2 separate regions of the Homo sapiens genome follow, and region 2 is linked to region 1. Evidence: fine-mapped expression QTL. A gene starts in region 1. The other region holds a variant in brackets. All regions are shown on one strand. Distances are between the middles of the regions.

Region 1 (8,326 bases):
TCAACCTTGTATTAGAACCTGGCACAGACTGTTGGCACTGTTAAAATATAAAATAGTGGTCAGGGTGACTTGCAGAGGAACAGGCTGCCCCACCAGTGACAGTGACAAAGCAGTGGAGCACTTGCTGCAAACATGGCCTCTGACTCAGGAGAGGCAGTCACTGTTGAGAGTTAATCCATGATCACACTTGGGTATCTAAATTGCCAAGGAAGCTTCATCAGCTGCTGCAGGAGTGGGCAGTGTGGCCCACCAAGTTCATGGCCAGCCAGTGGTGAGAAGAGACAAGGCTGAGACCCAGAGACAACCCAGAGGCCTTCAGGGGGCAGAAGGAGCGGGGTTTGGGCAGAGAGAACAATGGCATGGAGGTCTAGGAGCAATGAGGCCTTTTCCAGTCACGAGGGCCCTTTTAGAATTTATTTCTGCTTAATAGCACTTAATAAACATTTTTGAGCAATGGGATATGTTAGGTCAAATGGGGGATATAAAGAGAGTTGACACAGAACCTTTGCCCTTGAAGAGCCCACAGCTGAGTTGAAGGAAGAGACCTAGAGCACAGTTTACTAACATCAAACCACCAACCCCCACAGCAAGAGCAGCTTCCCAGCATTGAGACCTCACTATGCTCCAGGCATTCCATGCATCATCTCATATGCACTTCATAACAGCTCATCACGAAGAGAAGTCACCGCAGATCCAATGGGTTAAGCAAGCTATCGAAGGTAGTCAGCAATTTTGTCTGACTACAAGTTCGTGTAATAATAATGTGAACCACTCCTTGAAGAGTAGAATCCAAGCATTGTGAGGCTGGCAGTGCAGGCAGGGGAATAGCATGAGCAAAAACCAGAGGTGGGAATGAATTTAACTGCCCCAGGAGGAGGCCCAAGACAGCTGGAGACAATTCAGGCAGACAGGAGAGCCCGTAGCTGCTCAGCTGCTCCCTGTCTTTTTCCTTCCCTCCGCAACCTTGAGAAAGTTGTCGATGGGTTCTATTTGCATTTTCTCCTATCCAGTTCCTCCTGCCCACATCACCCACTGCAGACACTCTTGCCAAGTTCCTCAATGCCAGCGTTGCCAGCCTGGTGGCCACTCCTCAGGCCTTCTCTTGCCTCCCCAGCAGCCTGGCCATGTGCCCGCCCTCCTCCATTTTGAAAGAGTACCCTCAGCTCTATCAACACCTCCTCCCCTGGTTTACTTTCCTCCACTCTGGCTCCGTCCCTTGTGCCACCTTGATATTGCTGTGGCCCATCCTGGACCTACTTCTCATCAACACAGTCTCCCTAGGAGACTCATCCCTTCTTGAGGCTTAACCACCACCTCCACGTGGGATTTCCAAGCCCATATCTCTAGCCCAGTGTCCACCCTGAGTGCTGGACCCATATACCCATCTGACTCCTGAAGATCTTTACTTGGGTATAGTCTGGGAAATTTGAATTTCAAATGTGACCAGGATACTCACTGGCTTCCTTCAATAGTGACTGCTCCTTCTGGGCCCCCTCTGTCAGGAGTGGGCATCACCAACGCTAGTTGCCCAAGCCAGATCCTGGGAGTCATCACTAACATCTCTCCTCTCACTGATATGTGGGTGCCACCTCGCTTTGACATTTCTTAAGCTTTTCTCTCCTTCCTACCACCATCCCACTGCTGCCATGCCAGCTTTTATCATAGCTCCTGGGATTCCTTCCACAGACTACCTAATTCCACTCTGGCTGCCAGAGAGGTCCATGTGAAATGCAAATTAGCCCAGGTCACCCTTGGTTAGAAGCCTTTAACGGCTCCCCATTGTGCTGGGGAGAAAACCTAAACTCCCAGCCTCTTTGCTTCACACACACATACCCACTGCGCTTGGTCTTGAGCTCCAGCCAGACTGAAACCATGGAGTAGGTTTACCCTCTTTACCCTAATCCTCTCAATCCTACTAGTTCTTAGGGCTCAGCTTGACAGTCGCCTCCTCCTAGAAGTCTTCCTGCTGTCCAAGGTGCATTAGGGCTCCACTTCTATGCTCCCATAGCAGCTGTGCACAATAGCTTTCTTCCTACATCACAGCCACACTTTCTCTTCTTGTTTCCCACCCTGAGACCATAGAGTCTTTGAGGTCAGGAGATGTTCTTGTGGTTTAGCTTTTTTTAAAATTTATTTATTTATTTATTTATTTATTTATTTATTTATTTATTTATTTGAGACAGAGTCTTGCTCTGTAGCCCAGGCTGGAGTGCACTGGCACGACCTTGGCTCACTGCAGCCTCTGCCTCCCAGGTTCAAGCAATTCTCCTGCTTCAGCCTCCCAAGCAGCTGGGACTACAGACACCTGCCACCATGCCTGGCTAATTTTGTATTTTTAGTAGAGAAGGGGTTTCACCATGTTGGCCGGGATGGTCTCAATCTCCTGACCTCAAGTGATCCGCCCGCCTCAGCCTCCTCAAGTGCTGGGATTAGAGGCATGAGCCACCGTGCCCAGCCTATTTTTTGTATTTTTTCAGTGCTAGGAAATATTTACTGAAATTTAAGGATGGAAAGTCTGGGAGACCGACTCTAGGAGTGCTCTTGAAAGGAAATGGGTTACTCCATGTGTAGGTGTTGAAAATGTAAAACACAATATTATTTCTCCCTTTTTCCCTAATAAAACCCCAATTTTGTTCAGAGGACAGCAATAGTGTTAATTACACTTCTTAGCATCCTTTGCAGGGGGTAGCTATGTGACCCAGGTTTGGCCAAGAAGACTTAAGTAAAAGCAACTGTGCACGCAAGGGAGAGATTTGCTCCCTTGATGTAAGCATGGCCCCTTCCTGTTTCCTGTCTTCCACATCTTTCCTGGAATTAGGAGAGGAGGCTGGAGATGGAGCAGCCATCTTGTGACAATGAGCCAGCCACAGGGATGGGAACCACAGGCTAAGGAATCTTGAAGGGCCTAGGTCATGACCCCTGGACTACCTACTAGCAGACTTCTAATTATTGAGAGACAAATAAATCTCATTTAAGTCATTTTGGTTGGCTCTCCATTACATTTAGCTGAACTCCACCCAGTAAAGGTCAATGAAGGAAGATAAGCATCTGTGAGCATTTCTGAATAGGCTTTTCCTTTGGAGATGATGCTGGCGCTGACGGGAGGCAGAGGGCCAGGTTAATGGAACAGGACTAGGTGAGGGCTGGAGAGGCTGATCCTCCCAGGGGTTCTACCAGAGGATCACAGTGAGGCCTCAGGGTTTGAGAAAGAAGCTCCAGGCATGGTAGCCCTAAGGTGTCTGTGACCTTGGCCTGGGGGTTTTCTGGTCCCTGTTTGGTTCAACTTGCAAAATGGGGCTGTTGGACTAGACAACTTATCAGAAGGCATAGTGCTTCAAGTCTGGGCTTAGGAGTCAGACAAGGCTGAATTCAGGGTCCAGCTCCACCACTTGCTAGCTGTGTGGCTTTCAGACAGCTTTCTTAGCCGACTGCTCTAGCATCCTTGTTTGTGGAGTCCAGACTCCATCAGTACCTATACCTGTAGGGCTAACGTTGGGGCTTCATGAAATCATGCATGTGGGTGCTCAGCAGAGGGCCTGGTATGCCCAGCACACACCAAGTGCTCCATGCTGGTACCTGTCCTTGTGTGCCATGTTCTCCCAGTGGACAGATGGGACCTGGAATTCATGCCTCCTCTGGGGCTGGGGCTGGGGCTGCTACAGTGCTGTGGAAAGCCTGTCAGGATGTACCTCGCTCTGTGGCTGAGTGAAGAGGCCAGAGGCTGCCCACTGTTCAACATCTTTGGAATGCTGCCGTGTCCAGGGAACTTGGGTCGCAGGTGGATAGAAGCCCCCAAGCCCAGGCCAGGCCAGACCAGGCCCAGAAAGGTATCAGGTCTTGGGTAGAATAAGAAGCCTATGTGGTCTATCTATCCTGTGGCCTTTGTCTTAGCCAAAGCCTCCTGGATATTGACGGCATCTTTTCCTGGGTTTGGGGTGGGCTTGGAGAGGTTCCCTCTGCACGGGACTACAGAAGTGAGGGAGCTGGAAAAATGCCTCCAGAGCTGGATTCCTCACTGCAGCTGCTTTTGGAAGAACCTTCTTATCCTTCCCTTGAGAAGCCTCACTGTCTCTTCTCGGCGCTTGGAATCCTGTTAGTAGAAAATCTTGGGGAAAAAATAAACCCACTATTCATTCCAGCACTGAGAAGGAGGTCAGTGGGGTGCGTCCTGTTTGTCCACACCCCCCCCACCCCCTCTACCCCTCCCCCCAGCACCCCAGGCCAGACCCAGCCATGCTGACACTTGACAGCCCCTGCAGTTTACCTTGGCTCAGGTCCAGAGACTTCGGGCCCAGCCCCCACCTTTTCACCTTGTTACCCAGCCCCCTCTCCAGCGCAAAGAGCAGTTTAAATATAAATCAGTCCTCAACACAAACAGAGCTGCAGCGAGTCTCAGAGCCATCACCGGAACTGAGGGCCCAGGTTTTCTGCGAGTGCAAACAAGCAGAGACTGGCTCCGTAAATCTCCCCAAGAACGTCGGGAGGGGTGCTGGGGCTCCCCTCCACCCCCGGCTCACGTTGGCCCCTCCAGCGCCCGCCTCGGGCACCCTCATATCCCAGCCTTCCTGCCCCCCAGCCCTGCCAACCTCTTTCTCCATCCCCTCCACTCACCCACCTTCGCTTCGCCCACCCTCTCTTCGCCAGTCCCCAGGAACCTCCACCCCCTTGCAACCTCCTGCCCCCGCACAGCCCTCACCTCCCCTCCCCGGGCCCGCCACCTCCTTCCCTCCCTCTCCGCCTCCCGGCAGGCGGGATCTTCTCGGGGCAGTCAAGCCTCGCGGGTCGCTGCGGCGTCACACCTGTCTGAGGGGGCGGCGGCGGCGGCGGCGGCGGGGCGGGGGCTCGTAGCGCCTTTGACACCCGAGGAAAAGAGGGAGGAGGGAGAGCGCGTTTCATCATCGGCGGCGGCCACTTATAAAAACTTCTAGGCGCGCACTCGCTGGCTCAGTCTCCGCTCCGCGAATCTCCTCCGGCCACTGCCGCCGCGGTCGCCTCTCACCCGCCCGGCCGCTCCAGCCCGAGGCGCCCCGACCCCGCGCCACTCCGCGCCCGGCCAGCCGCCCGCAGCCATGGGGCTCCTGCCCAAGCTCGGCGCGTCCCAGGGCAGCGACACCTCTACTAGCCGAGCCGGCCGCTGTGCCCGCTCGGTCTTCGGCAACATTAAGGTGAGCGGAGTCCGCGGGGTCTTCCGGGCCGGAGCCGCGCCTGGCGCACCTTCGGCTGGGCACCCGCTTCTGTCTGCCGGAGCCAGGAGGCTCCGGGAGCCCCGGGCTCCCTCCTGTGCCGCGCTCCGATCTCATCCCCGGGCGACGCGTGCTGGGCGTGTGTGTGCGAGTGTGTGTGTGAGCGTGTGTGTGTGTGAGCGTGTGTGTGTGCGTGCGAGTGTGTGTGTGTGTGTTCACACGCCTTCATCGGACTAAGTAATGGGACAGTGGAAGTACCTGCTTACCGCTTACTCGGACAACTCCAGGCAGAGTTATAAGCGAGAGAATTGTCCTCGATGATTGAAAAAGATCATCTCGAGGAACGCTTTTTCGGCCTCCAGCGGGCGGTTACTTCGTCAATGGGATGGGCTTGGAGGTGCCAGGGGGACCCCCCGCGCTTTGGGGGACAGACTGTGTCTCGTCCGAGCCCCCTCGTCCTGGGGTGGGTGGCCTAAGGGATGTTCTCCTTCCCCAGGCTTTCTTCTCCCGCCAACGGGGGCGGGGGGCTCTGCTACCTGGCTGTGCCGCTCGCAGTTATGTTTAGAATTCCCTCTCAGCGGGCGGCTTCCCCAGGCTGGCAACCAACCCGCGTGCTCAGATTGGCTTCCCTGGTCTGGAAATGGCCCCAGGAAGGTCACAGCTCTCACGGTTCAGTAAGGTCTAAGCAGGTCCACTCACCAGGCAAGTTATGGGGAGCGGGTGAGAAGATAGGGTGTTGGCAGCTGTTAGGATGAGAGCACCTTTCCCATGGGGTCGGAAATGCTTTCCACTCCCTCACAGGTCCAGGAGGACCTGGAATGGTTCAATCCGCACTCGGGCTCTTTTGCCCGTTCTGCCTAGGCAGAAGTAACAATGGAAGATACCTCCTGAGAGGCCAAAGCTGCTGCGGTGAGGATGTGGGAGACTGCAGAGACTGCATCAAGGCCCCTTCTGGTCAGGGTGGGATCATGGTGTAGAGAGGTTGTTTCCCACAAACATACAGTCAGATGGGACTGAGTAAAGCCTCCGGTGGTGCAATTAAGGGGAAGCCAGATTACACAAAGGGATGATGGGGGTGTCCGTGGACTGGTTATATGTGTCCAACAGAAAGGGATCTGGAGGTCAGAGTGGATCTCACCTGCATACTTACTCAGCTGGGATCTCCACTCCTGCTTCTGCTCTTTCCGCACCGCAATAAATACAGGCTGAATTGATTTTGTAGTTGTATATGGATAAGCAACAGAAATTTTGAGATAGCTTAAAATAATCTCCAAATCTCCTCATTTTTGGCCAGACCTGGATGGAAATGTTGTGCGCAGTTTTGGTTCCACCATTTTGGAGAAATTTCATCAGGAATTTTGGAACCTTTGGTATTTATAAATTAGGAATTGAGATGAAAGGGTAGGGACTAGGATTAGATGGTGTAAAGAAAGGGGCCTCTGCAGGAACCAGGGTGGGGCAACCTCACTTCATTTTCACCAAGAAGGGCAGGAGGGACGGGTGTCCAGAACAGATTCCTGACAGTGAGGGTACAGCTGAATGAGACTGATCCGTTTAGACCCACCCTGGTTCCCTAAAATAAATGTTTATGGCAGCAATTTATTTGGAGATCTATATAAATAAGATGATTTCTCATGTGTTGATGATTTAACCACACGTACCTGAGGGCTGGGCTCAGGCCAATTGGCCTCCTAAAGGAGTTAAGTACTCATACTGGCTAAGAGTTTTTCTTGACTCTAAAAATGAGATTCTGTTAGTCATCACCTCCTTTGATCCATACTAATTGCAAGACCAGAGTTTGGAGGACTTCCATTTAACTCCACTTATCAGCCTGAAACCAGGTACGAGGTTGGATAGCTTAAGGTAAATCTTGAATCTCAAATTCCATCAGTTAAAGTCACTTGCACCTTTCCCTCCTGGGGCAATAACTGGGAGCTCTGCTATTTGAAGGGATATTTCCTCCCAATGAGAGTGCTTGTAATAGCCCTGCCACTTTGCAGTGGGGGATGGGTTGCACATATCTTGGGACATGTATGACATGGTGGTGTAGCAGGACGAGCCACAGACAAAACTCCTCAGACACTGAGTTAAAGAAGGAAGGGGTTTATTCAGCCGGGGGCATCAGCAAGACTGCTGTCTCAAGAGCTGAGCTCCCCGAGTGAGCAATTCCTGTCCTTTTTAAGGGCTCACAACTCTAAGGGGGTGCACCTGAGAGGGTCGTGATCGATTGAGCAAACAGTGGGTACGTGACTGGGGGCTGCATGCACCAGTAATTAGATCGGAACAAAACAGAATAGGGATTTTCACAGTGCTTTTCTGTACAATGTCTGTAATCTATAGATAACATAACCGATTAGGTCAGGGGTCGATCTTTAACTACCAGCGCTAGGGTGCGGCTCCGGGCTGTCTGCTTGTGGATTTCATTTCTGCCTTTTAGTTTTTACTTTTTCTTTCTTTGGAGGCAGAAATTGGGCATAAGACAATATGAGGGGTGGTCTCCTCCCTTATTCCCCTCCTTTGAGATTCTCACTCAATAGTGGGAGTTCTCACTTTCATTTTTACTACCTGTGTCTTCTTGCAAGACAGATCGATAGTGATTCATATAGTACACTTGTGCTGAACCTTTTTGGTGAACTAAGGTAGCGATGAAGCTTTTTATCATTTGAAGAAGTATAGGTAGCAAACAAGGGAGCAGTAAGCAGGTTCCTATTACTATTATAACTCTTATTATTAGAGTTTTAAATTCTCTTAGCGCTGGGAACCATTTTCTAAACATGGCCCCAGGATCAAATCCATGCCACACTTGCACAGGCACATGTGCCAGTTTTGTCATATCTCTTAACTGTGTCTTCAACTACTTGCCCTTGATTATCTATATGTAGGCAGCAATTAGAAAGGTTAAATTTCCTACAGACCTCTCCTTCAGCTGCTAGCAAGTAGTCAAGAGCTAATCTATTTTGATAGGTAGCATTTCTCATCTGAGTTTCTTGCTGGGCCAGAATAGTCAAGGCTCTGCCGGTTTTATTAGTGATTATTTTTAAGACAGCTTGTAACCGTATGATTCAGTTGATCACGTAAATGGGGGTCTGGTATCCTCACAAGCCGTCTTGTGCCTAGCAGGCCTATAATATTGTATGATTTTC
Region 2 (8,326 bases), 95 kb after region 1:
GACCCAAGCATTATTTATATGAGTCCTGGCCCCCAATTAGCCATGGGAACACAAGCTGGAAGTGAAGGCTAGCTGAAAACGTGGAAGGAGAAAGAGAGGTCAGAAGGTCAGCTTTCATTCAGGGCCACATGGGACAGAGACTAGAAGGGGCCCAAGATCTCAATCAAAAGCCAAATTGGGGTGGCCAAGTCCCGTTTCATTGAGAATCTAGGGGAGTCTGCCCAGGGCAAGGGCCAAGACAAGGCAGGTATCTATTATGAACTGGACCACTGGAGGGATCTGTAGACACAACAGGATTTGAGACACTTTGCATTGTGGGGGTCCCAAGGGGTGCCTCTTCCCCTGCCCCAATGAGTATTTGTCTCACTGGGCCATCCCTCAGGGGGACTGGGCAAAGGTCCCTTTCCAGTTTGCTAGCAGAACTGTGATGGTGGTGGTGAAACAAACCACAGGTAGAGGCCTGGGGATTACTTCTGAGCTCCCTTCCTCACTGTCCCCTAGCACTGAAGGCTCTTCCTGACAAGCACCCACCGGGAGTGTGTGTGCTCAGAGCACAGAGAGTCCTGGAGTCAAGTCACTCATCAGGTGCCTCTGCTGGCCAGCTGCTGGCTCCCCACCTTGTGTGGAGGTGTCCTCCCTCTCTCCACTCCCCAGCTGGGATGGCAGGGCCGTCCCCTGCTCTCTCTGAATCTCCTTCCTCAGCCAAACACATTTTCCTCTCTTGAAGGAAGATGGTTAGGGGCAGGACCAGCTACCTAATTTGCAGGACCTATTGCAAATGAAAATGTAAAGCCCCTGGCTCAGAAATTAAGAATTTCCAGACAGCTGCAGCAGAGCATTAAGCCAAACATGGGACCTTTCTGAGGGTGGAGTTGTATGCACACACCCACAGAGCTAGCCTGGGGTAGGGAATTCTTTTAGCTGTGCACAGAAGCCTGCAGCCCAAGGGCCCTAATTACACTTTGCAGCAGGGCTGTCTTTTACTGTTATAAGACATTCTGTGGGAGTTGTTCAGACCTGCTGCTATCAACACACCCACAGCATCCTTCTCTCCACTCCTAGCCTCTACTGCCCTCTGCTTCTTGAAGGGGGCTCTGGGCAGCCCTGAAAATCACACAGACTGGTGGTTCTCAGTGATGCATCAGAATCTCCTGGAGGTAAAATACAGATTGCTGGGCCCCATCCCCAGACTTTCCGACTCAGTAAGTCTGGGGTGGGCCTGAAAATCTGCATATCTAACAAGTTCCCAGGGGATGCTGATGATCCAGGGACCACGCTTTGAGGCCACTGATGTAAAGAACTAGAGCATTCAGCCCAGGTGAACCCGGTCACCAGAGGGCTCGTCAGGCCACATCAGGGCTGGTTCTGACCTGCTCTGAGGCTGGCTGCCCCTTACCCAAGGGATCGTGCAGCCCTGAATCCTCCCACTGCTGATTTCCTGTCTGTCTTTTCAGTGTGGTGAACCAGGAGGAAAAGTCATTTGCCATCGGGGTGCAGTTCTTGTTGATGCGCTTGCTGGGTAAGTGTCTAAGACCCCTCTTCCCAAGAAGTGGCCCCAGGCGATGGGGCATCTGAAGGCTATGGGTGCAGGGTAGCGATGGAGGAAGCACCATCTCATCTCCATGGCGAAGAGAAGCTGTGCATAATCAACAGCAGATGCCAAAATCCATGTGGACGGTTTCCCAGATTGCTTGAGGTTAGGAAAGACTCCATCTATGGCATTCATTCCTAACTAAGTTATGTAAGAAAAATGAAAAGTGAACACAGCTGAGAATACCTAATAGAGTGTTAAAGGCAGGTATTTTTAAATCCTTCTCACAAAACTCACTGTAGGAACAAAACTTTGCATTCCTGCCAAGCCAGAGCAGCGGCTGAGCCCAGCCCTGGCTTCCTTTCCATTTTACAAAATTCACTCCTCCTAAAACTATTTAGCAAAAGTTTCTTCCCTGTGGGGTCCTCTGCTGGTGAGTCCTGCCTGCCCTCAAGCAGTCCAGAGCCCACCAGAGGAATGGAGCTGTGCACAAGTGATCAGCAGTGCCCCAGGGGAGAGCGAGCTGCTTGAGGCAGCAGGAGTGCTCTCCCGGGGTGCCTGGGCTGAGGGCTGGGGGCACAATGCAGGCCCATTCCTGAACTGCTCACACTGGCTGTTCCTTCTTGACATATCTGTGCACTAGACTTAACACAAGGCAGCAATAGAGAGATCCTTGTAATGACAGGCACACAGTAGTAAAGGGACCTAATTGAACTGAGGATGTGTTAATTAAGGGTGCAAACTACAGAGGGGAATATGGAGACTCCAGCAAGAGGAACTTCAGTTACTATAAGGTGTCGTTTCTGACTATAAATCCTGAAATAATGTATAGCCCACTGTGCCTCATTACCCAGGGGCCAGGTCAACACCGCGCCCTGCAGTGGCTTCCATCCCCATTTTGAGATGTATTGGTGATGTCTCTACTGGGGCCAGGTGAGCGGGAGCCCTTGCTGAGCCCAATCCAGTCCCAGGCTGGGAGAAGTGTTTGGATGATGGGAATGAACCAGCTTTTTCAGTGGGATTTCTTGTTCCTCTAGTCCCTGCAGAGCCCCTTCAGACCCTGCTCCTGCTGCCTGCATTATAAACACAGAGGAAGCAGGGCGGCAGGATCTACCTGTCCTCCCAGCAGAGGCTCTGCTGTCATCAGAGCTCCTTATTTTCATTTATAACTTAACTTTCTCTAACACTTCTGCTGGGAAAGAGACCTCACATTCCTCTCAGCCCATCCAGCACCTAGGATAGGCTCTAAAGAGCCCTTTCCTGCTTCCTCCAGCAACCTTGAAAATGACCTTGAAAACAAGGACTCTCTCGGACTCTCTCGCACTGCTTGAAGCACTCGCTGCTTTTGCTTTTCCATTTGAGCTCAGATAACTCAATGTGGGACCACAATGAGAAAACCCAGGCCTGGAGGGGTTCCATTTATCACCCAAGAACACAATCCACTCTTGGGTAAAAAAAAGGACTTCCTATTACAGGTTTTAAATTACACATTGGGATTGGGTTGACAATGTTTCCGGACTTTGCTTCTACATAAGGAAGTGTCATATATCACTCTGGCCAGTTTTCATCCCCCTGTTCACCTGGAGACTTGAGAGTGAGCAGGATCTGAGTAGAGAGGCTTCTTCTTAGAGTTTCCCACTTGTGGGCAGTGCCACAAGTGGAGCATTGTCTGTCTTTCTTCTGGAAGCAGCTGCTCACAGGGCCCTAAACAAAGTCTGGGAGGCTGTTGTCAGCACTGTGGTGCTGAGAATGGGATGGGCCAGCCTTGGTGTAAATCCTGGACAAGCCCTCCGCAGTCCAGTAACTGCCTAGAGCTGTAGCTAGTGGTACGCTACCCACAGGTAGTGTGGCATCCGGAATATTAGACAGCCAGGAAGGCATAGCCCCTGCCAAGCCAAATCTTAACACTCAGCTGCTGGGAAGTTCGGGGTCCCAGAGCAGAAGCTTTGAGCAGCCAGGTATTGGGAGGTCTGCAGAGGGGTGTTGTCTAATCCAATAGGGCAGCTTGGTGTGGTGGAAGTACATGGGATTCGAACCTCCATAAACCAGGGTTCCAAGTCTGGCCTTGACTTCTCTTGGCTGTGTTACAGTGTCCCAGCCAAGAACCCCTTCCTCTTCACTAAAAAGTGGGCACCCACACCTCGGGGCCAGTGTGAGGACCTGAGAAGTCGATGCCTGGAGAGCCTCCTGCCACACAGTGGAGGCCCGTGTATCTCCACTCTGAGCTGATCTCAGGAGAACTATGTTGGATGTCTGAGC[C/T]GGCATCAAGGTGATCCCTGTGACTTACTCTGACTTGAAAGAATGGCCCAGGTCCCTTTTGTCTTCTAAGCCTTCTGGTGAAAGAGAAATTCAGGCTTCACTGAAAGCTATTCTGCTTTCCAGAGTCACTGTGAGTCCTATGGGTACGGCAGAGCCGTTCTCATGTATGTGAACTGTGTCGGGGACTTGGCTCCCACACCCCTGCTGGACACCTCTGCCTGCAGTTCCACCTGACCAGGGCTTTCTGAACCCTCTTCCAGCCTGGCTGCCATCTCCAGCCCTCTATGGCCTCACCATTGACCACTCCTGCATCCGGTGGAACTCGCTGTGCTTGGGGAGGCGAGGGGCCTGCGCCTACTATGACAACGATGCTCTCCGAGACAGGTGAGGGCCCATCATGTATGTGTGTCCCAGAGCCAGGCCCTGGGCTTGAGATGACAGTAGTCATATGCCCAGTGGCTACTGTGGGGGCTGTCAGGCTTCCAAGGAAGAGAACATGAAGGGCCACCTCTGCGGCCCTGCCATGGACAGGGAGCAGGGGCTACTATAACAGGCATTTCAGGGCTCACAGGGAGATGTCCAGGGACTTCCATGACCCGAAAGCCCTTGGAAGGGGCAGCAGACCCAGGGACTTCCCTGACCCGAAAGCCTTTGGAAGGGGCAGCAGCAGAAAGAAGGGGCGGGGATGGCTGGAGCCCAAGGAAGAGGCCATGGCTGTGGAAAAATTGGGGGCAGCCTCCTGCTGCTCAGAGACAGAGGGGGGCCACATCATGGCTCCTGGCAGAGGTCCAGGGCAGGGGGACCAACCTGCCTCAATGGGCCAAGTCCAGCTGCAGTGCTATTGGGTTCTGCACCCCTTCCAGCCACCTCACCTGCTGCCGTTGTCATATGGCCCAGAAACCACAGGAAGGTGGGCTTGAGGGGACTGGGCAGGGGCTGGAAATGGTATGGGAGTGGCAGAGAAGACCACAAAAGGGACAGGCCAAGAGGGCAGTGAGAAGATGCCTCTCTCCTTCTGGCTCTGCTTGGAGGTCAGGACCGTCTGGGGGTGGCTGGGGCAGCTGGGTCACCTCTGGCCCTCTGGAAAGAGCCAGTGGAGGGATGATGAGCCCTGGATTAAGAGTCCCATGCCTACTCCCTGCCTGCTTCCCTACAGCTTTGTTCCCTTTTGGGTCAAAGAAATGAGGAAAGTGATCCTCACCTGGATGGTGCCCACACCTTCCGCGGGCCAGCGTGGGAATGATGTGGTTCTTCCCAGTGGTCCTGGCCCTGGGATGTGGGCTGCAGAGCCCCCTCCCTCACCAGTCCTGCCTCCTCCTGCCCACAGGTACCTGGGCCTGCAGATGGGCTACAAGGCGCTGGGCATGCTGCTGCTTTGCTTCATCAGCTGGAGGGTGAAGAAGAACAAGGAGTACAACGTGCAGAAGGCGGCAGGCCTCATCTGACCCCACCCTGGGCCACTGCCCTGCTCCAGAGAGTGGACCTTGACTCTTCCACACCTGCCTATACTCACTAATGTTAACACGTCATTTCCTTTTTGTATTTTTAAACAAGAAAGAAAACCCCAGTCCTCATTTGCCTTCCCTACCTCTTCCTCCCAGAGTCCTCCCCACAGTTCCTAAGGGCCACTGTGTACCCGGGCTGTGTGGGCCAGAACTGGGGGGCTGAGTCTTCCCTGGCCCCTTGGAAGAGGCCCCCAGATGCCCAGGCTCACTTCAGTGTTGAGTCCTCCATTGAGGATGCCCACTGAGGCAGCCAGGCCCCTCACCAGCCCTGGGGGGAATCCTAAACAGAGAGAGAAAAAGGGTATCTGCCCTTCTTGCCAGGCAGCTCCACTCTCCCGCTGACTGCCCACACCCTGCAGAGTGGCAGGGGTGAAAGGAAGAAGGAAGTGGCTGAGTTATTAATAGCCAGAGCCACTGGGAGACTGGGGAGACTGGCTGTAACCCCCTTCACACCTGGGTTTGGCATCAGCACAGACTACGGGAGGGGCTGGCTCCCTCCCCCTCAGACCCTCACTTCCTGTACCTAGAGGCCATTCTGGATGCTGCCATGTTGGGAAGTACAGTCTCTGCCCATTACCTGCATGCAGGCACCAGAGCAGGGACTGAGAAACCCCAAGGATGGGTCATCTAAGTGCTGTCCATATGAACCCTGGACTTTCTGTCCTTAGATCCTCACATGTTATCCCTGTCTTTCTGGGGTACGTTTCAAACTGAGGAAGCTACAACACAGTGAAGACCCAAGGAAGGCCTATGAAAAGGTCCTGATGCCCAACCTCCCACCCCTTCAATGTGGGGACGAGACCCCCTCATCTCAGAGTAATGGGAAGAACCTCCCACATCTCCCTGGCAGCAGATGAGGTGGCTTCACATGCACTTCCCTGTCTGGACTTCAGCCCGTATTCCGAGGAGTAGAGAGGCAGAAGAGATGTCAGCAAAGCAAGTGATGAAGCAGAGTGGATGTCCACTGTCACCAAGCTGGATGGCAAGCTGCGGCCCACAAAACAGCCAGTCAGGTTGGCTTTCCTGGTTTCAGACATGCTCATACCATTCCCATTTTCTCAGCCTCTTCTCACTGCCTCCAGAGAGGTGGGTGCCTGGGTTGAGAGACACAGCTGCTACGTGATAGATGTTGAGAGACAGAAGCCAACGAAGGAGGTCATTCATCAACAAATATATTTATTGGAGACCGACTTTGTGCAAAGCAATGCTAATCAGGGTTCTCCATGGAGCTTCCCTCAGCTCTTACCTCACCTCCCTCCATTTACATTAGGGCCTTCTCCCAGGGTGTGCTCGGTGGGCAGTGTGGGACTGGGGGTGTGGGAGTTGGTGAGAGCAGGAGGAGAGGTGGGGACAGCAAGAAGCCACAGATTGGCATGAAGGATCCTGACCTGACTATCCATGCCATCCATGGCCCCCAGACTGACTCTGCACCTGGCCCTTTGCCAGACAGCTCTGTCTCCCCATGTCCTCTGGAACAGCTGGGCATGGGTCATGGCCATTCATGACCCTTAAGTGCCACCCTTCTTGGAAGACCCCCTCCAGAAGCATACTGGAAGCCACCTCTGGAAAAGCCTCATATGGTGATATGCCAAAATATTTATGTCAATGTCCAAACAAAGTCCAATGCCATGAGACTGAAGTCTTTGTGGAAACCACTGTTACAGACAAGCTTATTTCCAAAGCCACCTCATTTCCAAACATCTCACTCAGGAAGGGAGGCTCAATGTAACCTCAGGGGCCAGTTTTAGCATTTGAAATGGTTCTGCTTGGAAAATGATGCCCTGCAACTAACCCTGGTCTTTCCCATGGCAATTTAACCACATTTGGAAGGCACTGCCTTCAGCTGAGTTTATGAACAATGAATGCCAACCTTCAGGTTCTAGAAGATTGGTTGCACTCCCAAACCTTTATTCTATTATATTACTATTAAAATATTCTAATTTTGCTATTGAGGTAACTTGGTCATGAATTTATGTTGTCATATACATCTGTCAGAGAACAGACAGCACCTGCACTTTTTAATTTTATTTTATTTTTATTTGTATTTTATTTTTGAGATGGAGTCTTGCTCTGTCACCCAGGCTGGAGTGCAGTGGCACAATCTTGGCTCACTGCAACCTCTGCCTCCTTGGTTCAAGCGATTCTCCTGCCTCAGCCTCCAGAGTAACTGGGATTACAGGCCTGCGCCACCACACCTGGCTAATTTTTGTACTTTTAGTAGAGACAGGGTTTCACCATGTTGGCCAGGCTGGTCTCAAACTCCTGACCTCAAGTGATCCTCCCGCCTCAGCCTCCCAAAGTGTTGGGATTACAGGCATGAGCCACTGCGCCCTGCCGGCACCTGCATCTTGTAAACAGAGGAAGTGCTCATGACATAGACCCCAGGGGCCCATGGCCATGGAGATTAGAGGTAATGCAACTGTCAACCCATTAGCCTGGTATCAGGCAAGTACCAGACACTGCTTATTCCTTCAGTGAAGTTCTGCTGGGCTCTGAGAAGGCCGCATCACTGCTCTTGGGTTTATATCCAGAAGCGGAGCTGGACGCAAACAGCTATGTCCATGGCACAAAACAGAATTAATATCATAATCAAATTGATCACATGGTCACAACCAGTACTACTACTCCCAAGAAAATCTTTCTTTTCAGCTGTCAGCAGGGAATATAATAGTGTCACTTTCATTTCACTTCTAGAGCAAAGCTTAACAAACTTTCTTGAGTGTGTGACACTCACAGAGGATGCAAATTCCCAACACCCTCCACCCAGCCCCAGCGTCTACTTCTGTGGGTCTAATGGGGACCCAGGAATGGCTCTTTTAACGGCCCCCTCATGAGATTGATGTGGGTAGTTCCCAAATCCTGTGAGGTGGGCTGTCAGTGCAATAGAGCCTGGGGTATGCCCATTTGTGCTTAGGCCACTGAGAAATTTACAGGCTCGATAGGCCTTTGGTATGTTCAAAGGTGAGTGAAGGATAACAAGGTGAAGAGATGCCTGTGAATCTGATTTTTTGGATGGCTGCAACTAAGAGTC

Direction of the effects. Alleles are on the strand shown, and positions count from the first base shown. SD is a standard deviation of normalised expression in the study named.
In carriers of allele C in region 2, the expression in rectum of the gene that starts at base 4,947 in region 1 tends to be lower than with T alone (moderate effect, 0.66 SD a copy in CEDAR).

Evidence for each region.
Region 2: its variant is fine-mapped to the expression of SLCO2A1 in rectum (CEDAR, PIP 0.95). The same link has a PIP of 0.9 or more in transverse colon.

Annotation. Positions count from the first base shown.
Region 1 is chr3:134,026,546-134,034,871 of GRCh38, reverse strand. It overlaps SLCO2A1 (solute carrier organic anion transporter family member 2A1), which reads left to right and starts at 4,947. Exons shown (of 14, transcript NM_005630.3): 1 at 4,947-5,165. The coding sequence starts at 5,070. RefSeq lists an enhancer at 4,452-4,952.
Region 2 is chr3:133,931,622-133,939,947 of GRCh38, reverse strand. It overlaps SLCO2A1 (solute carrier organic anion transporter family member 2A1), which reads left to right. Exons shown (of 14, transcript NM_005630.3): 12 at 1,455-1,519; 13 at 4,051-4,174; 14 at 5,118-7,247. The coding sequence ends at 5,235. Among named protein-coding and RNA genes, the nearest start is that of C3orf36, 6.0 kb to the right of the region's middle. The variant C/T (reference allele first, on the strand shown) is at 3,791.